Regions from separate parts of the Homo sapiens genome. Here regions 1, 2, 3 and 5 are each linked to region 4. The links come from fine-mapping of genetic effects on gene expression. A gene starts in region 4. Each other region holds a variant in brackets. All regions are shown on one strand. Distances are from middle to middle. Region 1 has its middle 140 kb from the start of HLX-AS1. Region 2 has its middle 22 kb from the start of MTARC2. Region 3 has its middle 29 kb from the start of C1orf115. Region 4 holds the start of C1orf115 (chromosome 1 open reading frame 115). Region 5 has its middle 22 kb from the start of C1orf115.

Evidence for each region. PIP is the estimated chance that this variant, and not a neighbour inherited with it, causes the effect.
Region 1: its variant is the best candidate, but not a certain one, in a credible set for the expression of C1orf115 in nucleus accumbens (GTEx, PIP 0.68).
Region 2: its variant is the best candidate, but not a certain one, in a credible set for the expression of C1orf115 in whole blood (TOPMed, PIP 0.68).
Region 3: its variant is the best candidate, but not a certain one, in a credible set for the expression of C1orf115 in nasal epithelium (TOPMed, PIP 0.81).
Region 5: its variant is the best candidate, but not a certain one, in a credible set for the expression of C1orf115 in lymphoblastoid cells (TwinsUK, PIP 0.68).

What each region holds. Positions count from the first base shown.
Region 1 is chr1:221,012,481-221,019,254 of GRCh38, reverse strand. No RefSeq gene overlaps it. Among named protein-coding and RNA genes, the nearest start is that of HLX-AS1, 140 kb to the right of the region's middle. The variant G/T (reference allele first, on the strand shown) is at 3,606.
Region 2 is chr1:220,722,638-220,729,411 of GRCh38, reverse strand. No RefSeq gene overlaps it. Among named protein-coding and RNA genes, the nearest start is that of MTARC2, 22 kb to the left of the region's middle. The variant T/C (reference allele first, on the strand shown) is at 3,945.
Region 3 is chr1:220,716,231-220,722,286 of GRCh38, reverse strand. No RefSeq gene overlaps it. Among named protein-coding and RNA genes, the nearest start is that of C1orf115, 29 kb to the right of the region's middle. The variant T/A (reference allele first, on the strand shown) is at 3,069.
Region 4 is chr1:220,687,130-220,693,903 of GRCh38, reverse strand. C1orf115 (chromosome 1 open reading frame 115) reads right to left here and starts at 3,541. Exons shown (of 2, transcript NM_024709.5): 1 at 3,193-3,541. The coding sequence starts at 3,501. RefSeq lists a silencer at 3,471-3,710.
Region 5 is chr1:220,709,765-220,715,365 of GRCh38, reverse strand. No RefSeq gene overlaps it. Among named protein-coding and RNA genes, the nearest start is that of C1orf115, 22 kb to the right of the region's middle. The variant G/T (reference allele first, on the strand shown) is at 3,096.

The sequences.
Region 1 (6,774 bases), 330 kb before region 4:
GTTCCTTAAGAGCTCCAGTACATTTGACTACATTTTTTTTAGCCATAATGCTTTAAACAAGCTTTTCTAATCATAAATATAGCACTAAAAAAAGGCAAAGACAAATAATTAACAATTAAATATGTCTCTTGTTGGTCCTAGCCAATGAACAGGACCTTCCTCCAAAGGGAAGTAAAGGATTACATAAAAAGCCAGGCTGTATGGGAATCTTTTTTTTTTTTTTAATTTCTTTATCCATTTGTGGGGATTGAAGGCCTAGTTTTTAATCTTGCTTGGGTATAGGAGGACAACACCTCCTGATAAAGACAGGACCATTTTTCTTCATCAGGCAATATCTCCAGCAGAAGCACTGAAAAAGAAATTTCATCTCGCTCTGAAGGTAAGTTTAGTTTTATTTGTTAAGCAAATGGTTGCATTAAAATAGTTCATGGTTCTACTTATATAATAGTTTTTCTACCCTAACCTTATTAAAACTTGGAATTGAGAACAGTAGGATACAACTACTGAAGAAAGAAAAGGCCAGCAAACACGTACAAATGAATAGAAATTTAATAGGTATTTTCTTTTATAAAATGTCACAAAACAATCAATCAGCTAAGTAAATAACCAAAGTAAAGTGAAATCACTAAAATTATTGCCCAGTCAGCTATTTGGTGTCTCAGTCAGCACCTCATCATATTTTTAATTACATTGACAGCCTCTGGGTAAATAAGTGATGCAAATCTTCTTTTTGGCAGTGACAAAATTTTTATCACCAACTTTCTTTTCTCATTAATGGTCACAGACTGGTATGTATTACAGATGGATATCACATAAGTTAATAACATATTGCAGCAGCCAGAAGAGTTCAAAATACTGAAGCGGATCCTAATGGAATTGGGATGGAAGACAGTGATAAGATCAGAGGAAGATCCTATGTGTAGCAAGGTTAAAATCTGCTTGGGAGAAGCCGGGCATGGTGGCTCATGCCTGTAATCCCAGCACTTTGGGAGGCCAAGGCGGCAGTGGATCACCTGAGGTCAGGAGTTTGAGACCAGCCTGGACAATTTGGTGAAACTCCATCTCTACTGAAAACACACACACACACACACACAAAATTAGTCAAGCAAGGTGGCACGTGCCTGTCAGCTACTCAGAAGGCTGAGGCACGAGAATCACTTGCACCCAGGAAGCGGAGGTTGCAGTAAGCCAAGATCATGCTACTGCACTCCAGCCTGGGCCACAGAGTGAGACTCTGTCTCCAAAAACATGAAACAAAACAAAACACAACAAAATCTGCTTAGGAGAATAGAACTCAGAGTGATCACAAACATAATTGACCCAAGAGCACAAACAAATCTAATGATGAGTTCAAATTAGTATATCTTGACCTTGAGCTTAGTGGGAAGACAGGACATGGATGGGATGGATTAACAAGGGATCCATGCTTATAATAAAGCAGCAGCAGGAACTGAAGTGAAAGCCTCCTCCAGGACAGGTTAAGGGTGAGGGAGTGGAGGTGTTGCCTAGAACTAGCTGATGTGCTCAACTTTTAGCTGTTCGAGGGAAAAAATCCGATCAGAACACAAGGAACTGAGAGAGCCACTCTTACTATTTCAAAGGGACCTAAATGACATGGAAAACATAACAAGCTACCAGTAGGCCTAAGCCATCAAGGTGGGGAAAAGGTACTAAAAAAGGAAAGGAATAAAAAGGAATGCCATGCCATGGTGGAAAGAACATTAGCCTGCTAACAAAATGGTGAGTTCTTGTCCCAGCAGCTATTGGCTGTCTTCAGGACCTTCAGCAAGTCATTGAGCCTCTTTATAGTCTAAGTCTTCTGGATTGGAGCGTGTGGTCATTGCACTTCTTTCCAACATAGATTTCATAAAACACTAGACCCACAGAAAGTGCTTTGAGAAACCTCCTTATAAATATTGTGCAGCCAAAAATATTTGAAAAATTTTGCTTAACCCAATCCTAAAGATTCACAATGCACATTAGCACTTAAAGTCTTTGAGAAGTCTTACCCTAAAAAAAATCGATTTACTTTTACTTTTAATTGTATTTTTACTTTTACAATTATTTTTAATTGCAAAAACCTCAATTACTTTTGCACCAATCTAAAAGGTAAGATAGTTTTACTCAATATTTACCAAACCTACTTGACACAAGGTTGTTTATTTTTCTGTGAAATATCCATTGACATAAATTGCATCCTTTGCTAAATACACAGGACTATATATTTCCAAATTTAAGTTTCTAAATGAGTCTCAAAATGGAGAAACATAAAGCATGAAGCAGAAACTTCCAGTTCCTTATATTAACCCCAAGACTGTAAAGCTAGTATAGAGTGACCTTAATTTAGAACTCCCATGAGGAAATATAACAAAAGCAATTGCTCAGTGGCAATTTCTAGTTAATGATCATGGAGACTAAATAGAAACCAATCCAGCTTTTGTAGACCTGCCTGAGTTGTGGTGGGTTAACCAATCACTGCACACAGGCTAAGAAATGTCTCTAATGTACTTGCACTGCGCTGAGTTCTAACATGTAATGCGTAATTATTTCTTATCCCAAATAAAGATAAAATTATAGTCTCAAAATTATAAGTGTTAGCTCCTAGAAGACAAGGAATTCCCTCCTGTATCTCCAGGGCCCATCCTCAGTTCCTGGCATAAGGCATATTTACTCATTTATGAATGAGTGTTCTAACAGACAAATATTTATTGTGATGCTCTAAGTATTACACCACCCTCCAACAAATTTAAGGCCTGTTTAAAGAAACCTTGAAATAGCTTTATTTGTTGTCAAAGCCAAAAACAATTAATGCTTACTGATCATGAAGGCATGTTGATTTTCAGCCAAAACGCAACGCGTTTATTTTCATTGGGTTACATTTCTAGAGACCAGAGCTTTAGATATAAAGACTACATGTTAATGGGCAGAATGGATGTTCATTCTAACGACATAATGGGGAATTCACAACAGAACGACATGTCATCTGTATGACTGGCAACATAAACAAGAGAGTTACAAAAAGAGAGGAATAAGGGAACCAAATATGTTCATGAGATCTATTAGCGAAAGTTTTCTATAGGAGAAATTGAAGTGGCTCTTCAAAAAAAGAAAAAAAAGTTTAAAAGAAGGACTGATTTTTAAAGATATTCCGTGATACTTTTTGCTATTGCTTTTTCAAAGGAAAAAATAAAGCAGGTTTTTGTCTTTTTTTTTTTTTTCAAATAGAAAGCTTTTAAACAGAAAGCAGACACGCTGAGAATAGCCTGAGTCAGGAATTCACCCCTGACCCCTCAGTCCAGTGATGTCCCAGCCTGTGACCCCCAGCCCCAGCCGTTTTGCACTTGACCCGTTTTGCACTTGACCTGCTTTGCACTTGACCCATTTTAAATGGCCCCCACTCACTCCTATTAAAAACATACACCTTTGGGCTATTCAAATTAATTATATATATGCATATATATATAATTGATAATGTAATATATATATGGTTTTCTTGGCACCTTTGGCTTTCTCTCTTGCTTGGATATGTGTAGAAACCTTCACTTCCTCCCTCTTTCTCCAACCTGCTTTTTAGCCAGTCCCCTCCTTGAGCTGTGCTGATACAC[G/T]CCATCATCACATTCTCAGCTTTATCACAAGGCAGTTTCATTTGCTCTCTGCCCTTGTTAAGCACTCTGCTCCAGTTCCTTCACTGATTTCAATAGGAAAAGCAGAACAGATATCCCTATAGAACACTGTCATCACCTCATAAGGTCTACAGCCTGGAACATAAAATACTTCCGATTTCTAAGTTCTCTCTCAGGCTGAGCGGATTACAAGTCGGGCACTTAAAATCAAAAGCCAACAGGGACCCAACCATGACACTGAATGAGAAGTATAAGCAGACGTTATGAGTCACTTCCAAAAATTGGGAGTTATAGTGTCACAAGGCTAAGTGCCCTGGAGAGGATGTGGGTCTGATAATCAGAATGTTCCCAAATTCAAAAAGCAAGAAGTAGACCTGTGTTTAAAATATGAGTGCAACATATGGATTTTGACTTAGCATAACATGAAATAAAAACAAGACAGCAAATTTTGGGAGGACTGCTCAATTGTCATCGTATCTGACACCAACAGAGGTCCAAAGTATTCCTTCCAACCCTTCCAATCCACAAATAGACCACATAGAGTTCAGGTAGCAGGAGATGCAAAGTTCCTACTTTACTGGATGCTGGAATTTCAGGTCCAGAGGAAAGTTTGCAAAGCTACCCCACTTACCACCTCCCTATTGGTATATATACAGAGTACCCAAATGCATTGTCACTTCAGCAGAAGAACAATCTAAGAGTAAGTCAAAATTTTGAAGAGGTTGCTTGTAAGCACTGATATGATTCTTCTCCTTATGCACCATTCTCAAAGTCATGCCATGTCATTGCACCAGCCTGTCATTTGTAGGATGTATAAGAGGTTCCAACTTTCTCTACCACTCACTATTCAACACAAGGAAGCAAACTATTTAAAAAGCTTTTCTCTTGCTTCTTAATCAATAAAAAGAACAAGATGAATGGCCCCTTAATTTCACAAAACACCCTGAATTTAGAAGGCAATTTAATATCCTTAATCTTATCTGTGGGATAATTAGCCACTTTTATCTATTTTCTCTCCCCTTGGTGGGTACTACGTTTTGGCCAGACGGAATTCACTCACACCTAGCCTCAGATGAGACCTACGCCATTTCCTATTCTGTAGGCTGATTGCTTCTGAACTGTATTCTTCCAATATTGCTTTAGAGTCTGTTCCTGATTTATGCACCCTGCTTCAATTCCTGCTGCAAGATTGCATAATTCTAAGTTCAAGAGCTGTCTCTGAGTATGAGAAAAATAATAATCATAAACCAAAATGTGAGACTTCCATCTTTCCTTCCTAAACTAGTGAACTTCCAATAAGGTCTCCTAAATTGGTAAAAGTCACAAATCTTCCTTAGATCCCTTTGATTCCTTCTTTCCTATAAGAAGAATAATTGGAGGAGGTGGGCAACAAAACAGAAAATATAATCTTCCTAGGCAGATTTTCTGTCTTCTATTAGACCAGTCCTCACAAACACAAATGCCTACAGCAGCCAGGCAGGTCAGTGAGAGAGTGAACAGAGGAGTCATAAAATACTAGCAGTAGTGTGGACTGTGGCAAACTAGTGAGTACATGCACAGCTCCTAACACTTCCCCATCTGTTCAGTCCCAGCCAACTGTTGAATAGAAATGCAGGTTCAAGGTTTTCAGATTTTTTGATTTTTCATGAGGCTCCCAAAGTCTGGACACTTTAATGTAAAATTTCCCAATTTGTAAATGTTGGCAACTAATTGAAAACATTTCAAAACAATACAAAGGCCAAGGAAAACAGGTCCACAGGCCAGATGTGGCCTGTGAGCCATGGTGTGCAAACTCTGTGATGGGCTCAAAAGCTGTTTAAATTCACTAAGACAGTTGGGGTGCATAAAGGAAGAAAGAGAAATGGCATAGCCTCTTGGCTTCAGAGGAAAGTTTAACAATCTATGTGGAGGAAAGGCAGGTCACTAGGGAAAGAAACACTTTGGGCCAACACCCAAGCATGGGTTGGCCCAAACCTATGGGTTGACAATTATTTGACTTTGTCCAAGAAATAATGTCTCTAGAATAAGAGATGAAGGCCAGGCACAGTGGTTAACGCCTGTAATCCCAGCACTTTGAGAGGCCGAGGTGGCGGATCATTTGAGGTCAGGAGTTCAAAACCAGCCTGACCAACATGGTGAAACCCTGTCTTAACTAAAAATACAAAAATTAACCGGATGTGGTGACGTTCTCCTGTAATCCCAGCTCCTTGGGAGGCTGAAGCAGGAGAATCGCTTGAACCTGGGAGACAGAGGTTGCAGTGAGCTGAGATTGTAACACTGCACTCCAGCCTGGGTGACAGAGCGAGACTCCATCTCAGAAAAAAAAAAAAGACAGAGAGAGAGAGAGAGATGAAATTGAAAGTCTAAATTTCAAGAACATACTAATATAAACAGATAAATAATAAGTACATGTGTTTCTGTTCTAGAGTAAAAAGGTACAAAAGCTAATGGAGATTGAGATTTCAGGCCCCAATTTTTTCAGGAAGGAGAGAAAAACTATGAGAAATCGATGAACAATGTGCAGTTAATGTGGATGACATTGAAGTTGGGTGGGAGAAAAGGCTCAATTACCAGCATAGAGCCTGTGGGGAGACAGAGTGGCTCCACAGCAGAGACTATCACAGCCACCTCCCGCTGCACCTTCTGTAGTCACACTCAGGGTCAAGCAGCCTGAACTGTTCGAATGAACAAAAATAATCAGAGGGCTTCTGTCTCTGTCTGTAGCTACCACCGTTGAACAAGTACCCACATCAGTATCCTGGGGGATACACATTTGGGGAATGTTGTGATGGATCTCAAGCACACCTAAGGGAACTATCACAGGCACAGAGCTAAACAATATTTGCCAATTTACAACTACTGATTAAAAGCCCTGTCACCAAGCCAAGCACTCCAGCATGATTTTACCATTTTCCCCAAAGGTTTCCAGCTTCCAGGAAAGGAGTTGCAGAGAATGCAAGGTAAGTGCATACAGCTCAGGCAAGCAGGCTGAGGAGCAGACCACCGCTTCAGGCTTTGGATTTTCACAAACAATCCTGCCTCCCCCAAGCTGAGACAATGCCCTGCATTCACTGAGTTCTCAGGAGCTACCATAGTGTGCCGAGGAGCAGGAAAAAAGTTAGACTTGAATTGAAGATAGATTGGTATTCAC
Region 2 (6,774 bases), 36 kb before region 4:
CCAAGATGGCACCACTGCACTCCAGCTTGGGTGACAGAGCAAGACTCTGTCTCAAAAAAAGAAGAAGAAGAAGAAGGAGGAGAGAAAATGTCTTTCTTTGTCTCTCAGTAATCAAAATGGGGAATCAATATATTTAGTAATGCTCACCCCACCTGGCCTCATCAGCATCTTCCCCACGATTATCTCTTTTAGTGTTGTTTGCTCACCACAAGCTGTAATATTGATACATATGAATTATGACTGAGCATCTATTATATGCAAGACTCTTACATTTGCAAAACAAATTTGGGAGCATTCTTCTCCCTACAATCTTAGAATCAAGTGTATAAAATATACATATACATAAATGTATAAATAAATAAATATAATACAAGGTGGAAAGTGATGAAGGTCATGTGGGAGGTTGGAACCTAGTGATATAGAGATTCAAAGGGAGGAAAAATAACTTTTGGTGTGGAGTCAAGAGAAAGATTCTATTCTTGTTGAGAAAGGCTGAAAAGCATATTTTGAATGGGGAGCTCACTCTGGTACCAGGGCAGCTATTAAGAGAAGTTTTAAAAGGAAATGCCCAATTAGACTTGTGGTGACTATGCTAGATACTCAGTTAAAAGAAGAGAGAGTTTGTACATGTGCCTCATTTAGGCCTTGTTCCCTTCCTTTCGCTGCATGAATAATTAGTTTTTGAGACCTAAAAGTCCATCTTCCACCCAATTAGTTCCTCTAATTAAAAGCCATCATGATGACAAACGTTTTCTCTCACATCCTTCATTTTTCCAAATCTAAATGCACAGCTTCTAGAGGTTCTCTTCCAGTTCAAAGTTTTTACAATTTGAGAATAATGAAAAATGACCAGCTTTCCCTAATCATATGTATAGGAAAGTGTGTACCTTAGGATTTTGATACTCCTTGAGGAAGGCCATGTGGATTTCTTTTCTTTTCTTTTTTTTTTTTTGAGATGGAGTCTCGCTCTGCCGCCTAGGCTGGAGTGTAGTGGTGCGATCTCGGCTCACTGCAAGCTCCGCCTGCCGGGTTCACACCATTCTCCTGCCTCAGCCTCTCGAGTAGCTGGGAATACAGGTGCCCGCCACCATGCCTGGCTAATTTTTTTGTATTTTTAGTAGAGATGGGGTTTCACCGTGTTAGCCAGGATGGTCTTGATCTCCTGACCTCATGATCTGCCCACCTCGGCCTCCCAAAGTGCTGGGATTACAGGCGTGAGCCACCGCGCCCAGCTGCCCGTGTGGATTTCAAGTATCATACAGAAAGCCCAAGTCCACAGCTTGGAATGTTCCTAGTCATTATTAGGATGATTAATGAAAAAATTCCAAAAGCCAATATGGACTCAGATTAGAAGCATCAAAAACTCCCCACTCTGGCTCACTTTATCGTGACTCTGCTGAGCATGTGGTATAATAAAGACAGTGGGTTAATTAGGAGAGAATATTATAGTAAGGAAATATAGGTCTCACCTATAGAAACTTCAGGAAAGGTTTACTGCTTTAGCTTGGCTTGACATGGTACAAAGCCCACTTCCATAATTCATTCATGCAACAAACTATGTCTGGTAGGTACTGAGGATCTAATGGTAAACAAGAGAAAAACAATCCTGCCTTCAAAGCGGCCACAATGAAATCATCAATGTTTTCCAGGTTTCTTTGGGCCAAGCTGACTGCTTTCTTTTGCAATATCCTAAAGTGCTGAGGAAGCAATAACTAAAAGGAGGAGTCTTTGGCAATGATAACAGCAATCATTATAAAAACAGAGGCCTGGTTTCCAATAATATTAAATAGTAGACTAGAAAACTAAGACACATACAAGAATGTTTTGGGCAGCATTATTGGTGATAGACAAAACCAACCCAAATGTCCCTCAACAGCACAATAGATAGATAAGTTGTGGTGTATTTATTCAGCAAATGAATGTACAGCAAATAAAAATGAACAAACTATAGCTACACACACACACACACGAGTTAAACTTTTTTTAAAAATGAGCCAAAGAATCCAGACAATAAAATAATACATACTGTGTGATTCCATTCCTATAAAGTTCAAAACCAGGAAAAACTAAAACACGATGTCAAGGGATACACAAGATGGTGGTGAAACCACAAAAAGACGCAATCAGGTAATAACCATAAAACCAGGCTGTGGTTTCATGTAGAAGGGAGAGTAGGTGATGTGACTGGGAAGAAGCAGGGGGAAACTTCTGGAGCCTGGAGCATTCTTTTTTGTGGCTTGTTCAGGGGTTACAGAGGTGTTCACTTTATAATGATCTGTCCACTATTACGTTTCCTGCACTCTCAACATGTGTACTGTTGGGAGAATGACAAAATAAGGAGAATGACAAGCCAATACTGACATCAGGACAGCAGAAAGGGGTCCCACTATCCATCATGTTCTGGGGCAGTGCACAGTGATCTAACAGAGTGGAAAACAGACACCTAGAGTGGGGCGTTGGTCCTTGGGCTCTGGGGCTCTTAGGCTGCATGAATGGGAGAAGAACCAGCTCCTCTCTGTCATGATCAGTAGCTGGCAGTCAATTATAAGCTGAAAAGAGAGACCCTGGGTTTCCAGCCCAATTCTAGCACCTCAGTGTTTATGGCTGGGGGAGAACCAGCCCCCTACCTGCATAACCAGGAACTACAGGCAAATCCTTGCAGTTGCAAATGTACATCTATCCGGTAGTGAGTTCTACCAGGATTGATTGGCTTCATTCAGCCTACCCTACAGCCGGTGTTCTTGGAGGTCTGCAGAAGACCAGTGCTTTCTCTGGGAGAGCTGTCTATAGGGATCAGCCTCAGCTCTCGTGTGTTATATTTCACAGTAAAGAAGGAAAAGAAGATAGGGTAGGCAGAAGTATAACTGATCAAAGATGTCCACATCATAATTCTCAGAACCTGTGAATATGTTACCTTACATGGCAAAAGAGACTTCACAGATGTGATTAAGTTAAAGATTTTGAGATGGGAAGATTGTTCTGGATTATCCCGGTTGGCCCAATGTAATCATGTCTCCTTATGAGGGAAAGAAAGGGGCAAGAGAGTCAGAGAAGAAGATGTAATGATAGCAGAATTTGGAGTGATGTGATTGCTGGTTTTGTAGACGGGAGAGGGCATGAGCCCAAGAATGTGGCAGCCTCTGGGAGCTGGAAAGACAATACCAGAAAGAAATTTACAACATTCGCAAATATGTAAAAATCAAACACACTCCTAAATCATCAATGGGCAAACAAGAAATCACAAGGGAAATTAGAAAATACCTTCAGATGAATGAAAATGGAACCACAACATACCAAAACTTTAGGAGATAAAGCTAAAACAGTGCTTAGCAGGAAGCTTAGAGATATAAATGCCCAAAAATCCCAACTCAGTAGCCTAATGTTCTACCTCAAAGAAAACCAAGAAGAGCAAACTAAACCTAAAAGAAGGAGAAGAAAGGGGTTGATAAAGATTAGAGCAGAAATAAATAATGCAGAGAATAGAAAGGCAATAGAGAAAAGCGATGAAACCCAAAAATGCTTGTTCTTTGAAAAGATCAGCACAATTGACAAACATTTAGCTAGACTAACAAGAGAAAAAGAGAGAAGACTCAAATTCATAAAATCAGGAATGAAAGATGGGAAACCACTACCAATCTTACAAAACTTAAAAGGTTATTAGAGAGTATTATGAAAGCTGTGTCCCAACAAGTTAGATAAACTAGTTTAAACTGACTGATTCCTAGAAAAATACCAATTATCAAAACTAACTCAGACCTGGGCAACATGACAAGACCTTGTCTCTACTAAAAATTGAAAAATTAGCTGAGCGTTGGTGGCATACACCTGTGGTCCTAGCTACTTGGAAGCCAAGAGGTTGAGGATGCAGTGAGCCATGTTTGTGCCACCCAGCATCTTTCCATGGTAAATATACTGAACAAATTAGCAACAGAAGGGAACTTCCT[T/C]AATCTGAAAAAGACCATCTAAGAAAAACTCACGTCATACCTAATGGTGAAAAACAGAATGGAATGCTTTCCTCCTAAAATCAGGAGCAAGACAAGGATGTCTGCTTTCACTACTTCAATTCAATATTGTATTGGAGTCTCTTGCCAGAGCAACTAGACAAGAAAAAGAAAAAACAGGATCTATATTGAAAAAGAAGTAAAACCATCTCTACTATATCATAGTCTTGTATATAGAAAATCCTAAGTAATCACTAAAAAACTATTAAGTCCAGTAAATAAATTTAGTGAGATAGCAGAATACAAGATCAATATCCAAAAATCAATTGTACTTCTATACACCAGCAAATGAATAATCTGAAAAGGAAATTTAAAAAATAATTCTACTTACAGTAGCATCAAAAATAATAAAATACTTAAAAATAAATTTAACAAAAGAAATGCAAAACTCATATTCTGAACACTACACAACACTGTTAAAAGAAATTAAAGAAAATTTAAATAAATGGAAAAACATCTAATCTTCATGGATTGAATGACAATATTAAGATGACAGCATTCCCCAAATCTATAGGTTCAATGCAATCCTGTCAAAAATCTCATCTGGCTTTTCTTTTCGTGAAAATTGATGAGTTAATAATAAAATTTATATAGAAATGCAAGGAACCAAGGAGAGTAAAACAATTTAAAAAAAAACCACAAAGATGGAGAACTCACACTTTCAAAACTTACTACAAAACTACAAATATTAGGACATTTTTTATACTGTCACACAGTCCGGCATATAGTTCATTGGAATAGAATTAAAAGCCCAGAAACAAACCCTTATATGTATGTTTAATATACATAGCGGAGTCTTGCTATGTTGCCCAGGTTGGACTTGAACTCCTGGGCTAAAGCGATCCTCCAGTCTTGGCCTCCCAACGTGCTGGGATTACAGGCATTAGTCCGAGCGCCCAGCCTTCAACTTATTTTTCACATAAATCCCAAAACAATTTAATGTGGGGGAAGAATTATCTTTTCTTTTTCTCTGTTTCTTTCTTTTTGAGAGAGTCTCCCTCTGTCACTCAGGCTGGAGTGCAGTGGCAGGATCTCAGCTCACTGCGACCTCTGCCTCCCAGGTTCAAGCAATTCTCAGGCCTCAGCCTCCCGAGTAGCTGTAATTATAGGCGTGCACTACCACACCCAGCTAATTTTTTTATTTTTCATAGAGATGGGGTTTCACCACGTTGGCCAGGCTGGTCTCAAACTCTTGACCTCAGATGATTCACCTGCCTCAGCCTCTCAAAGCTCTGGGATTACAGGAGTGAGCCACCAGGCCCGGCCAGAATTGTCTTTTCAATAATGGTGCTGTAACAACTGAATATGCACATTCAAAGTGCACCATACAGAAATTTAACTCCAAATAGAACATAGACCTAAATATGAGTTAAAACTATATTTTTATATAGTTTTATAGGAACTAAAACTCTTAGGAAAAAATAAAAGTGTACATCTTCATGATCTTGGATTAGGCTAAGCCTTCCTAGCCAGCACCAAAAGCACAAGAGACAAAAGAAAAAAAATAGTCACAGTGGAATTCATCTGAGAAAGGAACATTTTGGGACCCCCAAATTACTAAGCTAAAGGCAAAAGTCAAGCTGGAAACTGCTCAGGGCAAACCTGTCTCCCACTCTATTCAAAGTCATCCCTCTGCTCACTGAGATAGATGTGTATCTGATTGCCTCCTTTGGAAAGGCTTATCAGAAACTCAGAAGAATGCAACGCTTTGTCTCCCACCTCCCAGTAACCTGGAAGCCCCTTCCCTGCTTTGAGTTGTCTCCACCTTTCTGGATGGAACCAATGTACTTCTTACATATATTGATTGATGTTTCAGGTCTCCCTAAAATGTATAAAAACCAAGCTGTGTCCTGACCACCTTGGGCACATGTCTTCAGGACTTACTGAGGCTGTGTCACGGGCACGTGTCCTCAACCTTGGCAAAGTAAACTTTCTTTTTTTTTTTTTTTTTTTTTTTTTTTTGACACTCGCTCTGTCTCCCAGGCTGGAGTGCAGTGGTGCAATCTCGGCTCACTGCAAGCTCCGCCTCCTATGTTCACGCCATTCTCCTGCCTCAGCCTCCCCAGCAGCTGGGACTACAGGCGCCCGCCAGCACACCTGGCTAATTGTTTTGTGTTTTTAATAGAGACGGGGTTTCACTGTGTTAGCCAGGATGGTCTCTATCTCCTGACCTCCTAATCTGCCTGCCTCCGCCTCCCGAAGTGCTGGGATTACAGGCGTGAGTCACCGCCCCCGCCGGCAAAGTAAACTTTCTAAATTAACTGAGACCTGTCTCAGATTTTGGGGGTTCGCATTTTGGTAACCGCGAGGGATTCTGAGTGGAGGTGCTCTTGACCTTTGACAAATCTCCTATCGGTGCTTGGTACCAGCATGAGCTATGTTTATGGCTCAAACCAATAAGACAATTTGCTGAGGTCTGGGAACACCCCCTCCAGACAATCCCTGATCTCACAAAATTTGGTCGAGATCTAAAGTTTATTTTGCTGTACAACTCCCTTTTTTTTGGAGTTTTACTTGCTTCCAACAAGGAAGGCAACACTTCCTACTTTTTTCAATTTAAAGAACTGCATCTTATTCTATGCTGATTGCTATTGATAGTGGCACAGGCATTAAATTTTAGGGTTATATGCTTGGGAACCCCTCTTTATTTTGTCCTAGCTATTACTTTACTTGTGTCACCTAGAAAAGGACCAGTCCTTAATTTTATTTTAAAAACTGTGTTCATGGGAGGCTTAAAATGGGTCATAACACGCATCAGGTTTGTTATTTCCTG
Region 3 (6,056 bases), 29 kb before region 4:
GATGTTTAAGGATGGTCTCAGAGGTTGGGGCCACTAGAATAAACTGAATCTAATACTTCCACACAGTTATGTTTAACTGGGCTCTCTGATACCAGGAGCAAGGTGGCAGGGTTTAGGGTGTTGTAAACTTCAATGGTTATGCGGGGACTTTCACAGAGCAAGCTTTGGTATCTAGTTAGTCTAGCATTCGTTAACTAATGATGTCCTTTGGTATTGATTAAAGTCACCACAGCATGGGAGGACTTTATGTTTAGGTTTTGCCTAAGAGTTAGCTTATCTGCTTCTTGTGCTAACAGGACCATCGCTGCCAGGGCCCTTAGACATGGGGGCCAGCCTTTGGAAACCCCGTCTAGTTGTTTTGAGAGATAGGCCACTGGCCTTGGCCAGGGCCCCACGGTCTGGGTTAAAACTCCAACTGCCTTTTTTTTTCTTTTTGACACACAGAGTGTAAAAGGTTTTGTCAGGTCAGGTAGCCCCAGGGCTGGGGCCGACCTGAGTTTTTCTTTTAACTCATGAAAAGCTTGTTGCTGTTGGTTGTAATAGATGTAGTTTATCTAATTTATATTTTTATTGACTGTCATCTACCAAAATATTGACTTGAGTCCTGTAGCTATTTGATTTCAAGCTTTAAATTGATCTGGTATTCCTTGCGGGGCTCCAATTGCATCTAAATAGATGTGAGAGTTGAAAGACCCATAAGGGGCTTCTCTCGCTTTATGATGTCTTATTTTTTTTCTTCCTCTGGTTGATGAAATGCCAGGGTTAAAGGGACAGCCAAATGGACTAAAGCACAAGTGCCACTCTAGTTATTTGGCAGAGTGCCCAGTAAAGTTCCACCACAACACCACCATACATCCGCTCGGGGATGAACAAGGGCTGACTGATTGATAAGTTCTTGAAAATTCTTAAGCTCACTGCATCCCTTCAGGTCTCCAAGGAATGCTAAGTTTCCTCCCTGTCATGAGAGACACGAAGTGAACTTAGCGTTGGGAGACAGAAGCTGGATGGCCTTCGGGGGCTGACCTACGGGGTGCCGGACATTGGGATATAGCAGAGAGAGCTTGGCACGACTTATTACTCTAGGCTGTAGAATCCTGGAAAAGAGCTACCATGGAGCCCATGCTTGGTCGACTGGAGGACCACCTTAGTGGAAAGGGGACCATCTGGGACTCTGGCCTGTCATGTGCACAAGCATAATAATTGCTTTTGTTTAACGTGCAGATGGAATATTTGATCCATTCCAACCAGGCATTTGCATCTTGTTGTGCTGTCTTAATTGCCAAAGTTTGTTTTAAGTCTTTAACTTCTATGATCCTCTAGTAAAATGCATGTTTCCTTTAGCACCTATTTTTATTAGTTTTTAGACCAAAGAAAGCTAAACACAATTTTATATTTAATAATGCTTCTTGTATGATTTTTATACCAGATAAGCTAAACTCTACCTTTATATTAGTGTGTTATTAATGTTAAATTTAATTTTAATAAAACCTTGTAGACATATTTATCCAAATTTTCATGTTTGACCATAAGGTAAGATTTTATAGACTCTTTTTAACCTTTTATAATTTTTGTTAAAGACCAGGTTGGTGCTTTAAGAAAAACCTGTTGTGTTTTTACTTTAATGTCCAGTTCACAGAAAAACTGGATGATACCTTTTTAACTTTAGCTAATATGTTTACACACAGAATTTTCTTTACAATTGATGTTTTAAAACTTGCTTAAACTTTCAAAACAATAATTTTTTTAACCTTTTACTGTAGGTAAAAATCCACATTCTTATGCCTCCTTATATTCCTTTTACCAAAGGTATATTTTACTTTTCTTATACACCTTGCACATAAAACTGTTTCTTCAATACTACTCAGGAGGCCTTATTGCTTTTTAAATTATACAACATTTTTTGCATAAAATTTTTTTATAACCTTTTTTCTTTCATGACTTTCACAGACAATTCTTCGACATGTCTCAACTTTCTGACTTATTATAAACATTTCTTTCTTTAAACAACCAGTTAATTTATTTCAGGACAAGAATTTACCATATAACACTCTTTTATGTAAATTCTGCCTCCCCCTTTTTTTCCTTTTTTCTTTTTTTGAAGATAACCATTCTTTTTTTTTTTTTTAAAGCGAACTTTCTTTATGTCTGTGGACTAGATTGTCTACGGCCACAAGATTAGAAGTTACTGTAATACATGTTACACTGTTAACTTTAGCAAACTTTACTTTTGTTGAAAACCTTGTAAGTTTGGGATTTCAGTTATCCTTTGCTATTAATAAGACCTCGTTTAGTCTAAATTAACTTAGAATTAGTATAGATGGCCCTTTTTTTTCCCGTTAGCAAAGCAGCTGCCGCTACAGATTGAAGGCATCTGGGCCATCCACGGGTTACTGGATTAAGGATTTTTGATAGGAAGACCTCAGTGCTTTCGGGATATGCCCTTGTTTACACTGACAACAAAGTGGTATTAGAGTGTTACAGGGTTATGGAGAATACCTTTAATTATCAATTATAGGTTTTAAATTTACCTTGGCTTTTAAAGGAATAGGGTATACTGTTTTTTTCTTAACTACTTGTATATTTCTCTTTCTCTTTTTCTTTCTTTCTTTGACTTTCTCTCTCTCTCTCTCTCTCTTTGACTTTCCTTTTGCCTCTGTCTCTTCCTCTCTTTCTGCCTCTCTCTCTGCCTCTCTCTTTTCTTGACTCCTTCTTTGTCTCTCTGTCTCTTCCTCTCTCTCTTTGCCTCTTTTTCTCTCTGTCTCTTTCCTCTCTTTCTCTCTGCTGGTCTTTCCTTGCCTCTGCCAGCCGCTTATGCTGCTGTTCACTTAACTACTGTTTTGGGAAAGGGGGTCTAAAACCAGCTGTAACTAAGTGTCTCTGTACGGAAACTGGTCTGGTTGCCCTGCCTTGCAGGTTACCTTGTGCCATACCTTTGAAACAAGGGACCTGTCCAGGCTTCCTTCTGATGGCCAACACACCTCTAATGCTGGCCAGTCTATTTCACACAAAGTTCTAAGTTTTCCTGGTGTCATAGTAACACCGTAATCTCCCTTAAATCTTTTCTTGAA[T/A]TTTTTCGACATAGTTCCTAGCGGGGTGGGCTTATTTGTGCCTGACCCATGCTTCTTCAAGACAAAACACCACACTCACACCACACATACACCACAAAACAAAGAACAGGTAAAAAGGGCACACACACACTTTTGCGGTTTACACCAAACCAAAATCAAAACCAAAATCAGAGTATCCAGAAATCCAGGCCAGGTCAAAACCAGAACCAAAGTATCAAGCAACCTAAGTCAAGTCAAAAACAAAAACCAAAGTGCCGGTACAGGCACACCGTGGGTGATCAGGCCACACTTCCACTCAAATGGAGTGGGCAAGTTCCGAAGACCAGTCCTATCAAGCAATTCAAACCAAGTCAAAACCAATACCAAAGTGCTGATAAAGGCACACCATGGGTGATCAGGCCATGCTTCCACTCAAATGGAGTGGGCAAGTTCCAAAGACTAGTCTTACCAAGTTTCAGATATCCAGACTCCAAGCGCCAGTTCCTTCCCGGTGTTCAGCCACTGCGTTGATCCTCCACAGGGGCGTGCCACACACTGCTCTGGTGAGGTGTCCCACCGGGGCAAATGCCTACCCGGGAGCACTCTCAGGATCCGTGTCGCTCCGGCTGGTTGGAGTCCCCCTCAGGGATGTTCCACAGGGCAGGCTAAAGCTGCCTAAGGAGCTGCCTTGACCGTCCATTAATCACCTCGCTTCCTGGTCAGAGAACCAAGAAATGTAGCAGGACCAGCCATGGAAAAAACCCCTCAGACACCGAGACACTGAAGGGAATGGCTTTAATCAGCTGGGAGTATCGGCAGACTAGCGTCTTAAAATCCGAGCTCGTCAGGTGCTCAACTTCTGTCCCTTTTAAGGGCTCACAACTCTAAGGAGGTCCACGTGAGAGGGTCGTGATCAATTGAGCAAGCCGGGGGCTGCGTGACAGGGGCTGCAAGCACCAGTGGTCAGAGTGAAACAGAACAGAACGGGAGGTTTCACAACGTCCTTCCATACTGTGTCTGGAATCTATAGATAACAACAGTTGCTAGGTCAGGTGTCGATCTTTAACTACCCAGCTTAGGTCAGGCAGGCCCAGGCCTGGTTTCAGATCTGGTTCCTTGGTTTTGGGTCTGGTTCCTAGGCGCCAGGCTACCTGCCTTTAGTTTCGCTTCTCTTTCCTTTTCTGAGTGTAAAACAATATCAAACAATAGGAGAGGGTCTCTCTCTTCCCTCAGTATGAAACAGTGTTTGGTTTTCTTTGGGCCATATTTGTGTAAATATGTTATTTGTATGTGTTCCAAAATTATGGGCAACTCCTGTAATTCTGATATGACTAAGTGTACATTATCAGTAATAATCATAATTGTCACGTTAAAATTATTATGTGCCACAAAGGTAACAAACTTTCTTGCCAATTGTGTCTTTGACTATGGTGGCCCTAAAACATTTTGTCATCCACAGACAATTGTTCTCTTGCTTTGGTACTGTTTAGACAGTTGTTTTATAATCAGCTATAACTGGTGCCCTTGAATGCAGGTTTCTAATAACTTTGGAGATTGTGACATCAGAACAGTGGAAAAAGGGGCACAGCTTGGTTTTATACATTTTAGGGAGATACGAGGCATCAATCAATATATGTAAAAAGTGTATTGGTTCCATCCGGAAAGACGGGGACAACTCGAAGCAAGGAAGGGGGCTTCCAGGTCACAGGGAGGTGGGAGACAAAGGGTTACATCCTTCTGAATTTCTGATAAGCGTTTCCAAAGGAGGCAATCACATACGCATCTATCTCAGTGAGCAGAGGGATGACTTTGAATAGAATGGGAAGCAAGTTTGCCCTGACCAGTTCCCAGCTTGACTTTTACCTTTAGTTCAGTAATTTGGGGGCCCCAAGATTTTCCTTTCACACTTCCCCCCTATTCTTTTTTAAAATCTTTTAGAGAAAGTATTTTAGAAGAAAATGAGTCTCTGATTTCAGGTTTCATCTGATCTCTCATGGCAAGGATGGTTTATTCCTAGACAGGTAGGTCCCAAAAGTTCATTTTTAGCAGGTTATGAAGTCTCATGTCCTATAAAGAGAAAATAAGGGGAGGAAGGGAGAAAAACAACAGCAAACAAAAGAATGATCCTGGAAAGTGGCTTATGTATGTAAATGGGATGCTGTTATTTTCTTCTGAAGTTTAAGTTGTCTAGCTTCAGTTTGCAGGGCTTTAAGAAACACAGCTTAGTTTTCAGTGATTTCAAATTAGGAAAAATTGGGGAAAAAAAGAAAAGAAAGAAAAAAAATATTGAAAATGTTATTTTGTAGACTTGTAGCCAGGAAAAATTAGAGTTCAGCCCAAACTGTAGAAAATAATAAAAATTGAAAAACATTAGGCAAGACTAGAATCTAACAACAAGTGTACTATAGTTTTTGAAACATATTTTTTCTCTCTCTCCAGTTTCCCATTTTCACTAAAGACAAATCATGGTAGGACCAACCTGCTTTATTTTACCTGTCCAGATTATTTGTATAAAGTACAGCAAGAATAATTATTTTTCACATAGGCTTTTTAAAATTGGCTTTGATGAAACTTTGTTCCATAGAAGAAATATCAAGACATTTTTAAAGCCGAACCCCGCGATGGATTTGTGCCACCACCAAATACCTATGAGTTGGGTGAATTACCTCTCCTCTTGAGGTTCCAAGATAAACCTAGGGCTCCTGGGCCTGTCAGAAGGTGACATTCTTTACTAACGACAGGTCAGAAACCCTGTACAGGGACTCTGTAGACAAAGTATGAGGCCAGTTTTCCCAAGGGCTTTTATTGGCTGCATAAGTCAGGTTTTATTCCTTAAGGAAAGCATGCCATTCCAGTCAAAGCCTTGGTAAAATAACCAGTTTCTCCAATTGTGTCCTCTTACAAATGAGAACAGATTCTTATTGCACTTATGCAAATAACTGTATTGTCGTAAGTTAAGAATACTCACAAATAGTTTCCAAATTCTTCAGAAATCAGGTAGAGAGAAAC
Region 4 (6,774 bases):
GTTCACCATGTTCGTCAGTCTGGTTTCCAGCTCCTGACCTCAGGTGATCCACCCGCCTCAGCCTCCCAAAGTGCTGGGATTACATGTGTGAGCCACCACACCCAGCTGAGCTTTCAATAGTTTAAATTACAGGGTCCCTCACAGTAACAGAAGGAGGGCAGGGACTCTGTTGTGCTCATTACTGTATCCTGAGCATGTAGAAAGAGGCTGAGTGTTTCCTTTGGTACCTCTCCCGCTAAATGAGGAGCTTTGCAAGAACCAAGTAATGTCTGTGTCTTCTCTAGACACTGCTTTCCTGGACATTACCCTGTTGATGTCTCAAAGAGACACTGGGCTGGGGCATGCGCATGTGTGGGTATGTGATGTTGCTAAGAGATACAGTTCTTTAAATGTGTGATAAGAATCACTGGGGGAATTTTACTTACATGTTTGAAACAACAAAAGAAAAACATATTCTCTGGGAACAAGCTTAACAATCAAGAGTGATCCATTATAAACAAGATCAGAATGACAATCGCCTGCATTAAACGTGACATTTTTGGTATTTGTACATCCATTTTGCTCAGCCTGTTATACTTTAAAAGCTACTTGTCACTTTGTAATTTAGGGAAAAAAAATCTACTAAAATAGTTCATTAACTGGAACACTGTTAAAAACACAGATTTGAGAAATGAAATGCAAAGAAACATAAAATATCTCTCAACCACTATTTCAGTGTCATTTAAGAGAGTGCATTTGGAATTCTTTGATCTGAGTAGAGCTTTCTACCCAACTACTCTCTCAGAGGGGAGCTGGGGTCTCGGGGAACAAAGAGGGGTCACCTGCTTTATATCTCCATGTTTGAGCCTGGTGACCCTCTCAGGTGGCTCCAAGAAAGTAGAAGCTGAAGTCACTTTTGAAGGGCAGAAAGGAGAGATCCAACCCTAACCTGACGACATCCTCTCACCTGGCCTCCTGGGTCCATTGAACTAGCGTGCAACACTCTAGAGCTTTCATGCCCACAGCTGGGCTTGTGATGGCCCCTCTACCTGAGATGACACCACTTCTCTATCCACTGAAATCTTGTTTTTTTTGTTTGTTTTAGTTAAGGCAAAATTCACATAACATAAAATTCACCATTTTAAAGTGCGTACAGCCCGGTGGCATTTAGTACATTTACATTGTTGTGCAACCACCACTTCTATCTAGTTCCAAAACATTTTCATCATCCCCAGGAAAAAACACATTACCCATTAAGCAGATGGGCTCCATTCCTCTTTCCCGCAGTCCCTGGCAACCACCAATCTGTGTTCCATCTCCATGGGTTGACCTATCCTAAGCATTCCATACAAATGGAATCATACGCACAATATGTGATCTTGCGGGTCTTGTTTACTTCACTTAGCATAATATTTTTAGAGGTTCATCATATTGTAGCATGGATTAGTACATTTCCTTCCTTTTATGGCTGAATACTATTCCATTGTATGTATATAACACACTTGTTTATGCATTCATCCATTTAGGGACATTTGGGTTGTTTCCACCTTTTGACTATTGTAAATAATAATTCCATTAAAATGTGTATATAAACATTGATTTGAGTACCTGTTTTCAATTCTTTGGTTACATCCCTAGGAGTGGAACTGCTAGATCACAGAATAAGTCTACACTGAACTTTTTAAGGAACTCCCAAATTGTTTTCCACAGCAGCTGTCCCATTTTACATTCCCACCAGCAATGTACAATGGTTCCAATTTCTCTACATTCTCGCCAACATTTGTTATTCGGTTTGTTTGGACATTTTTTGGAGTAGCCGTTCTAGTGGGGATGAAGTGTGCCTACTTCATACCACTTCACTGTTATCTGGTGAAATCTTAACTCATCCTTCTGTGCCCAGTTTTCATGTCACCGTGATTTGAAAACTTCCCTGAGTTTACAAGCTCACCGCTGAGGAGTGAACTGCCTGAGCTCTGTGCCCTGAAGCCCCCCCGGGGGCGGGGGGAGCCAGCTATGTCAGTGTCTCCCTGGGAGGCTGTGCCCTTCTCTAGGGCAGGGCTGCACTGTATTCATTTTCGCATCTCTACTGCTCAGCACAATGCCTGACGCATAATGAGTGCCCCCAAAATATCTTCAAGTCCTAGTCCTTGAGCTGAGGTTTCTGCAGTATCAGTTCACCAATGGAGAGGGACATGATGGCTTCTTTGTGCTCAACTGGGACCCAAAGCAGAGATGAATCGTCCTAGCAGGGCTCTAAGCCTGAAAGACCCAACTTTATAGTTTTACCCCTGCCTGTATTCTGCTCCAGAAGCTGCTGACATACCTTTAAAGAGGATGATAAACCTAAGCTCCCAGGCATGGAGACTGAATGGCTTCAGGTGTAAGACGGCATTGGGCAACACAGATAAATAGACAATAAATCAGATGGGGCCCGTGGCCTTTGGCCAGGACACAGTAACTTCTGTGACTTTATTCTGGGTGGCCTTGTCCAGGCCAGCAGAGCTTCCGGCAGCAGCTTCGACTGTTTCCATGCAGAGACACCTGGGAACTGCATCTGCGCTTTGATTTCCGCGAAGGAAACTGTCATTTTCTCCCATATTCATTCTTCCTAACCCCATCTCCCCGAGACAAACGGCAGAATGTTTTGAAGGCCCCAGAGTACACTGATAGTTGGCTAGACGAGAAAAATTCAACGAGCGCCTATTTATGTATTTGTTGCGCTCCCAGGCTCGGGAAATAACCTTGGGAATATTTGGGAGAGTAACCCAAACATTTCTCAACTAGTGGGATATCCTGGAGGGGATGTTACTGGAAAACAAATACACTGGGTTGCAATTTCTTTCTTTCCAACTGGGCCACCTTCTCCAAGTCACCTGCCGCGCTAACGCTTCAGTATTCCCATCTGTAATCAGGAAACTGATTCCTGATCTTACATAAAAACCACCGCGGTAGGAGCCCCTTGAGAATGTTCTTAAGAAGCCAGGAGCGCAATAGCAGGCACAGCAGGGACCACCCAGCGCAACCCCCGATTTAAGTTTCTATCACGACTCGCAACTCGCGGCTTCCCTCCGGCGAGGGAATGGGAGCGGGGGCGGAGGGGTCGCAGGTGCAGCCCGGAGAAACTGGGTGAGTCGATGGTAAGGACCCGGCTCCCGCTCCCCCGCGGGACACCACACCCGCGCCCCCCGGGCAGTGGTGGCGCAGGGCCCCTACCTTGCCGTACTTCTTCAGCTTCCTCCGGTACCTCTTCCTGGGCTGCTCGCTCGGCGCCGGCTCCTCCAGTGGCTCGTAGCGCTCGGGCAGGAGGGCGAAGTGCACCCTCCGCGCGCCCCGGGTCCCCGGGCCCCGCTCGTCCGCCGCGCTCGTCCCGCTCTCGGCCGCCGCCTCCGCCTCGTCCGCGTACTCCAGGTGCTCCAGGATGGCGGCCGCCTCCTCGTCCCCCTCGGTTCGCCCTCGCCCTCGGGGCCCGCGGCGCAGGAGGCTGCTCTCCGCCTTGCTTCGGAGCCTGGCTCCCACCGTCATGATGTCCCGGCCCCTCTGGCGAAGGTCCGAGCGCAAAGACACCAACCTTTGGTCCCCGCCCGCTCCTCCGCCCCAGCCCGGACGGGGCGGGGGATTGGGGGGGCCGCAGCGCCCCCTGGCCGTGGGGCCCGGGATAGCGTTGGCTCCGCTCCGAACTGGCCTACCAGGCGGCGGGCGCGCTCCGCCAGCCCCGCCCTTCATCCCACCTGCCGGCCAAACTGTGCAGACTACGGCGCGCACTGCACAATGAACATGCAAAACACCTTCAACTGCACTTGCTACGAAATTAATGACCCCAAATAATAGGACTCCATCTGCTCATGTTCAAATTAGCAACGATGGAAAATGATACTAGAGATCACGCTCAGTGCTAGGGAGGGCATGGCGAGATAGTCACGGTAACAGGATTCGTGGGAGTGCAAATTGGTGGCAAGGTTTTGGAGAGACGATCAGAAAATCTTTATCGTGAGTCTTAGGAAACGTCCGTATTCTAGGAAATATTCGGAAACGCAAGACAGTGTGTCCACGGTGTTCAACGGTCTGACTCAGTGAAAAAGTGGAGCAAACCAACAGGGAGGCGCAAAGGAAATTCTGGTGCAGACATGCCAGCATATGGCGCAGTCTTTAAAATCATGATTTTCAGGAATATCTCTCTGTGAGATAAGCATTATCAGTGTACTGTGAATCTCAACAAGCTGAGAGTGCCCTATTTTCTTAAGTGGGTAAATGCCTTTGAATTCTGGCTAATGTAGAATTAAGGGCCGAAAGCAGTGGCTCACGCCTGTAATCCCAGCACTTTGAGAGGCCGGGAGGATAGCTTCAGCCCAGGAGTTGGGGAACAGCCTGGGCAACATAGTGAGACCTCCATCTCTAGAAAAAAAAAAAAAAATTAGCCAGGCGTAGGGGCGCACACCTGTGATCCCAGCTATTCAGGAGGATCGCTTGGGCCTGGGAGTTTGAGACTAGCCTGGGCAACACAGGGAGACCTCATCTCTAGAAATAGAAAAACAAATACAAAAGTTTACCTGTAGTCCCAGTGAGGTAGGGAGATCGCTTGATCCTGGAAGGTGGAGATTGCAGTGAGCTATGATTGTGCCACTGCGCTCCAAAGGGGTCGACAGAGTGAGATCCCATCTCAAAAAAATACTTAGGTATAAAATAACATAGATTGTTAGATACACTGATATTTTAACATTAAAGTTTGTGATTAAATTTAAGAATAACGTGTATATGTTGGTATAAGCACATACAATGTTTACGACAATTTAGTTCACTAGGATGCAAAAGAAATTAGTTTTGTGATTCCAACTTAAAATGTGAGCCAGCATGGTGACTTTCACCTGTAATCCCAGCAACTCCACAGGCTGTGGTGGGAGGATCCCTTGAGGCTAGGAGTTCTGAGCAACGTAGGCCCCATTTCTAAAAAAGTGAAAATGTGTGGCTCGGTGCGGTGACTCACACCTGTAATCCCAACACTTTGGGAGACCAAGGCGGTGGATCACCTGAGGTCAGGAGTTCGAGACCAGCCTGGCCAATATAGTGAAACCCTGTCTCTACTAAAAATACAAAAATTAGCCAGGCATGGTGGCGTGCTCCTGTAGTCTCAGCTATTCGGCAGGCTGAGGAGGAGAATCGCTTAAACCCAAGAGGCAGAGGTTGCAGTGAGCGGAGATCGTGCCACGGCACTCCAGCCTGGGCAACAGAGTGAGACTCTGTCTCAAAAAAAAAAAAAAAAGTAATCAGCTAATTGATTTACGCTTTTATTTAACTTATGTAATAAGGTAATAAGTAATGACTTATATTTAATCTTAAAAACATAGAGTCTTTATATGTAAAATAGTATATAAAATTTATGTACAATTCAATTTCAGGTGAAATGGGTATGAAAATGAATTTAACTTACTATATTTATAAGAATTACTTAGAGTTTTGTTATAGAATTGAAGTACTTGAAAAGAAAGTCAAATATTAAATTTGTAAAAGTTGCTTGAAATGTTTAGGAGAATTAACTAAACAGTAAAAGTGCCTCCTTACAGTAATTGTAAAATTTTATCGGGTGAGTAAATAGTTTAAAACAGTATGTAATTTGAATTTAAAAGGTTAAGAGAAAGTAGATTTGTAGATTTGTAATTTTGCTAAAGCAACTATTACTTTATAAACAAACAGAGACCCTTGTAGTCCCTTTTTTTTTTGTACAAAACCGACCTCAAAGAACCCTAGGCTGCTTATCAAATGGTGATATAGTTTGGTTCTATGTCCCCACCAAATTTCATGTTGAATTGTAATCCCCACTGTTGGAGGTGGGGCCTGGTGGGAGGTGATTGGATCATGAGGGTGGCCCTTCATGAATGACTTAGCACCATCCCCTCAGTGCTATCCTAGTAATAGTGAGTGAGTTATCGCGAGATCTGGTCGTTTAAAAGTGGGTGGTGTGCACCTCCCCCTTCTCTCTCTCATCTTCCTTCTTTGGCCATGTTTGCGTGTTTCCCCTTTACTTTCTGCCATGATTGTAAGTTTCCTGAGGCCTCCCCAGAAGCAGAAGCCATCATGCTTCCTGTATAGCCAGCAGAACTGTGAGCAAATTAACCCTCTTTTCTTTATAAATTACTGAGTCTCAGGTATTTCTTTATAGCAGTGCAAGAACGGACTAATACAAATAGAGACGAAGGTAGAACATCCATGGGCCTAAAATGTGTTTTTGTCAGTACAAAATACTGTTCAAATATCACAACAACATTTAGTTTGCCTTTAAAGGCAAAACACTAGAACAATTAAAAATTGATCTCCAGATTAAGTCTCTATAACCAGTGAACAAGCAGAATTTAAGGAGATGTAATCAGAAACTGTCTTTATGTTGCATTCCCTTGTCTCTCTACAAGTTATTCTGTTCAGAGAATGAGTCTCTTGCTCCTCGGTGAAAACTTAGGTAGTCTTGTAGGGTTTTTTGTTTGTTTGTTTGTTTGAGACAGAGTTTCACTCTTGTTGCCCAGGCTGGAGTGCAATGGTGCGATCTTGGCTCACGGCAATCTCCGCCTCCCAGGTTCAAGTGATACTCCTGCCTCAGCCTCCCGAGTAGCTGGGATTAGAGGCATGCGCCACCATGCCTGGCTAATTTTATATTTTCTAGTAGATACGGGGTTTCTCCATGTTGGTCAGGCTGGTCTCGAACTCCTGACCTCAAGTGATCCACCCGCCTAGGCCTCCCAAAGTGCTGGGATTACAGGCGTGAGCCACCACGCCCAGCAGTCCTGTAGTTTTTCTATTCACACAGAA
Region 5 (5,601 bases), 22 kb before region 4:
TGGCTAATAACTCCACTAGCCCTTGTTACAGTCTTTTACTATAATGTTGAGGTGTTTTAGCCTCAGAAGCAGGCCTCAGGAAATAGAATCTCTCTCTCTGACCTTCTCCTGTCCTCTTTACACCTTCCCAAGGCAAGCCTTTAATCTAACTGTGGGTCAAAAGACTCTCATTCCAGAAGCAGTCCTGCCTCAAACCCTGGGGAAAGGAATGCTATGCAGAGAGGCCACAAAAAGTCTGAATAGACAAGCTTACTGGGTTTAGATCAGGCACTTTTTGTCCAATCACATTTCTACATGGTTGTCAACCGTATCTATGTAATAAAGCCTCAATGACAACCCAAAGGGACATGGTTCAGAGAGCTTCCAGATAGTTGGAACATGGAGATCCTGGAGGGTGGCATGCCAGGAGAGGGCATGGAAGTTCTGCTTTCCCTCCCCCATGCCTCACCCTATGCCTCTCTTCATCTGTATCTTTTGTAATAGCCCTTATAATAAACCTGTAAACACAATTGTTTTTCTCAGTTCTGAGAGCTGCTCCAGCAAACTAATCAAACACAAATTAATCCAGCAAATTAATCCAGGGGGGCATGGGAACCCCAACTTAAAGATGGTTGATCAGAAGTTTTGGAATCCCAGACTTGTGACTGGGTCTAAAGCGGGGGACACAGTCTCAGGGGACTGATCCCTCAAACTGTGAGATCTGACACTATCTCCAAGTAGATAGTACCAGCACTGAATTAGAGGATGACCATTTGGGTGTCATCTACAGAATTCATTGCTTGCTTGCTGGTAGAGAGAAATACCCACATATTTTGAGGTCATAGAAGTCTTCTGTGTTCATTATTACTGTGTTGATGTGAGAACAGAGGGAAAAAAAATGGTTTGAAAAACATGTTAAACATAGTTGTATACCCAAGAGAAATGGGAATACATGTCCACACAAAATATGTACACAAATGTTCATAGCAAAATTATTCATAATAAACAAAAACACAGACACAACCCAAATATCAATGGATGAATGGCTGAACAAAATGTGATGTATCCAACCAATGGAATATTATTCAGCCCTGAAAACAAATGAGGCACTAATACATGCTACAACATGGATGAACCTTGAAAACATCACGCTGAGTGAAAGAAGCTAGTCATCAAAGGCCACATTTTGTTTTATTGCATTTATATGAAATGTCCAGAATAGGCAAATCCATAGAAAAATAAAGTTGGTTGGTAGGTATCTGGGGTTGGGAGAAAATTTGGATTGACCACTAATGGGTACATAGTCTCTTTTTGAAGTGATGAAAACATTCTAAATTAGATTTTGGTGATGTTTGCACACCCCTGAAAACATAGTAAAAACCATCGAATTATACACTTTAAATGGGTAAACTGTATGATATGTGAATGATATCCCACTAAATCTGTTTTTTTTTAAAAAGACTGTCCTTATATAAAAATGTTTGTTAGAGGATACAGCAGCAACTTAGAAACAGGGCTTACATTATAGTCAGGAAAATGGATTCCTTGCATGCAAATATAAAGCAAACTGCAGTTCAATAAGCTAATGTAAAATCAGTAACACTTTCAGAGCTAAGGGATTTCAGAGGTGGGAGGGGTCCTCTAGCCAGAGGAAGAGGGAGATAGGGAGAGGTTCAGAAAAAGCTTTCAGCTGGGCCTGAAAATGTGAAAATTCCTAAGTAGGAAAGTACAGAAGACCTAGACGTGTGGTCCTGCAGGCTGATCACATCATGGACAAAGGCAGAAAAGATGGAAATGTGAAGGACATGGCCGGGTGTGGTAGGTCACGCCTGTAATCCCAGCACTTTGGGAGGCCAACGTGGGCGGATCACTTGAGGCCAGGAGTTTGAGACCAGCCTGGCCAACATGGCAAAATCCTGTCCCTGCTGAAAGTACAAAAAAAGTAGCCAGGTGTGGTGGCAGGCGCCTGTAATCCCAGCTACTCAGGAGGCTGAGGCAGGAGAATCTCTTGAACCTGGGAGGCGGAGGTTGCAGTGAGCCGAGATGGCTCCACTGCACTCCAGCCTGGGCGACAGAGAAAGACCCTGTCTCAAAAAAAAAAAAAAAACTGTGAAGGACATGTTCAGAAAGTTTGGCTGTAGCCAAGGGTTTGTATAAGGAAGCAATGGATTTTTTTAAGTCAATTGAATAGGTTATAATGGTGTATTTTTGTGCTAATTTGCATTTCTATTATTATTGAGGATGTATTTGCAATGTTCTTTTTTTCCTTTTAATTTACAAGTGTTTTGTTTCAATTCTGCATATATTATAATTTATATTACACACACACTTTTTTTTAAATTTAACCCACAGTTCTATCTGAAATTTGGGTGAGAATATGGCATGATATAGGGATCTATTTAAATTATTATTTTTTACATAAATAGCGAATTGTCCCATCATCATTTATCAAGTAATCCACCCTTTCCAGATAGATTTAAAATGCCTCCTCCATCACATAAACAGTAGCTCCAAGCCCGCAGACCCCGTTTGTCGTCTGGTTTCTCATGCTTCCAGCACAGCACAGTGGTGTGCAGTTTGGGAAGCAAAGATCTTGCAGAGATCTATCCAGAAGAGAACACTGGAGGCCTCCCGAACAAGCAATAATAGAAGATTATGGTTCATTCCACACAGTCACTTCACAGTGTGCTGGAGAAGGCATCAAATGATCTAGCAAATGTCCATCACCGTATGTCTGAGTGGTGGAATTACCAGTGTTTTTCATATCCCTCTTTCCTCCATTCAAATCTTCTGTGAGTAAATATTCAGAAGACGAACAATAAATAGTAATCAAACAAAAACACTTTTAGGACATTTAAAGCCTTGAAAGGTTTAAAGTAACTCATCTGCAGGCACGTCTGGGTCCACCACGCAGTGTTATCCTGGGTGCAGGGGCCCCTAGAGATCTTTGTGCCCAAGCTCACCTGGCTGGCTCCCCGCAAGAGCAATCATCTCTAAGAGTGTGAGCCTATGGCTCCAGCCAATCCGGATCCATCTAAACTCTATTTCCCCAGGAGCAGTTCTCCCTTCCCTCAGCCTCTGCCTGAAACATCACCCCTTAACTGAATAACAAGGGG[G/T]TGCGCTGCATAAAAGTTGCTGCCCGACCAGGAGCCGTGGCTCACGCGTGTAATCCCAGCACTTTGGGAGGCCGAGGTGGGTGGATCACCTGAGGTCAGGAGTTCAAGACCAGCCTGACCAACATGGTGAAACCCTGTCTCTATTAAAAATACAAAAAAATTAGCCGGACGTGGTGGCGGGAGCCTGTAATCCCAGCTACTCAGGAGGCTGAGGCAGGAGAATTGCTTGAACCCGGGAGGTGGAGGTTGCAGTGAGCTGAGATCGCGCCATTGCATTCCACTCCAGCCTGGGCAACAAGAGGGAAACTCCGTCTCAAAAAAAACATTTTTTTTGCTGCCCATATTTCCCTAAGGAGAGGGGGATTTCACTGAACCCAATACTGTATTTGGAAGCCACAAAGTTGTTTCTTCCCTAAGTTTTGGAGAAATCAACATGGGGAACCCACAGACCCTCAAATGGGAAGAGAAGTGCTTGGGAAAGGGGAACTGCCTAGTGTAAAGTCCACCTGGATGACAAGCATAAAATGTATGTGTGTGTTGAGGGGAGTGGGAGAACCAGAGCAGAAAAAGCCTTTCGGGATCTATCTGGAGGGAAGGCATGACCAAGAACGGTGTGGAATCCACCCAGCCTGAGATGTCTCCTGTGGGGCCTTGTGCAAGGAGAGGCCTCTCGGTCTCACTTCCTCATTTGAATAAGAAGGATAATAACATCTATGTTACTGGGCTCTTATGAGGATTAAATGACGTGATACTGAGCACCTAGCAGGGCCTGAATTTTACTGAGGCGCGCGTGTTAATTTCCTCCACTCAGTTCTGCCTTATATGCACAAAAGGCACCACTTCTGTCCCCTTCAGGAGGGCCTGAAATGTGCCTTGAAGCAGACTCCAGAGCCAGGAGACACCAATGGGGAGTGTGTGTACAGTAAGTCTCTGTCTCCCCCAGGGAGGACAAGGTCAGGGACGGGGCCAACCATGTGACTGTACAGGTTCCAAGGTAAAAATGACAAGGGCACAGGAAATACTTTGGCTGCAGCAGAAAACCCCAGAGCTTGGCTTTGCACATTGTCTTTCTGGCCCAGCATAGAGGCATTGTGCAAATTAAACAAATAAACAGTAATCTTGGCCTTGGGCTCAAAAGTCTCCACATTCTCCTGTTTCTTCCTCCAGCTGGTGCCTTCCCTGTCGCTCAGACCAAAATCCCAGAGAATTATTTGGTTCCACGCTTTCCCTAAGTCCCACACTTACATAGACAAATTTTGTTACCTCTGTTTTCTTTCCTTTCCTTTTTTGGGGGGTAGGGGGGCAAAGGGGTTGGGGACAGGGTTTCTCTTTGTTGCCCAGGTTGGAGTACAGTGGCAAAATTATAGCTCACTGCAGCTTCAAACTCCTGGGCTTAAGGGATCCTCCAGCCTCAGCCTCCTGAGTAGCTGGGACTACAGGTACATGTCACCATGCTCAGCTAAACATTTTTCATTTTTTTAGAGACAGAGTTCTCACTATGTTGCCCAGGCTGGTCTCAAACTCCTGACCTCAAGCAATCCTCCTACTCTGGCCTCCCAAGGCACTGGGATTACAGGCTTGAGCCAATGCACCCATTTCCTCAATATGGCTCCAGTGGGCTTTCTCTTTTCCATTGCTCCTGGACCACCCAAGGCCCCTTCCACTCCTCTCTGCTTCAGCAAGGCACACCCCAGGCCAGCCTGTTCCCATAGCAGTTAGAGGGATCTTTTCAAACCATGGAGTGGATCCTACTGCCACGCCTCCCCACTACTTAGAGCCTATCAAAAGTTTCCCCTTCACTTCCCCTCGCTGTCAATACAGCCTACAGGAAGTGGGGAGAAGGCACCTCCACTTCCCACCCCCACTCCCTTCCTCTCCCCTCTCCAGCGAAACTGGCTTCCCTTCCCAACCACGCTGAGCCCCCACCCTCCTGAAGGCACTGAAGGCATCCCTTCTGACAACCTCGCAGCTCTTATCCCTGCCCAGAGCGCCTGCCCCAAGGCTGTCAAGTCCTCCCACAGGCCTCCCTGCCCATCCACCGGAGGCTAAGGCCTCCTCATTTGCTTCCCCCATAGCAGCTGACTACTCATTTGTCTTTTATCCTTGGTCTGCCCCTCAGTAGGAGGCAAGGAGGCAGGCACCATGCCCCTGGTTGCTTGTGCACTGTCCCAGCCTAGTGACAGGTGCAGAGCAGGTGTCAGGTAACATTTGTTAAATGTCTGAGTGACTAAATAGATGAAAGAATTAGCCGGGCATGGTGGTGCATGCCTGTAGTCCCAGCTACTTGGGAGGCTGAGGCAGGGCATCCCTTGAACTCAGGAAGTTGAGACTGCAGTGAGCTGTGATTGCACCACTGCACTCCAGCCTGGGTGACAAAGACCCTGCCTCAAAATAAATAAATCAGTAGGTGAAAGGAATTGGTAATGAATGACACTATAGAGCCAAGCACACTTCTTTGACTCTCCAAGGTACAGTGTCACGGTGGGTTAGGGTAGGACCCTAAGCA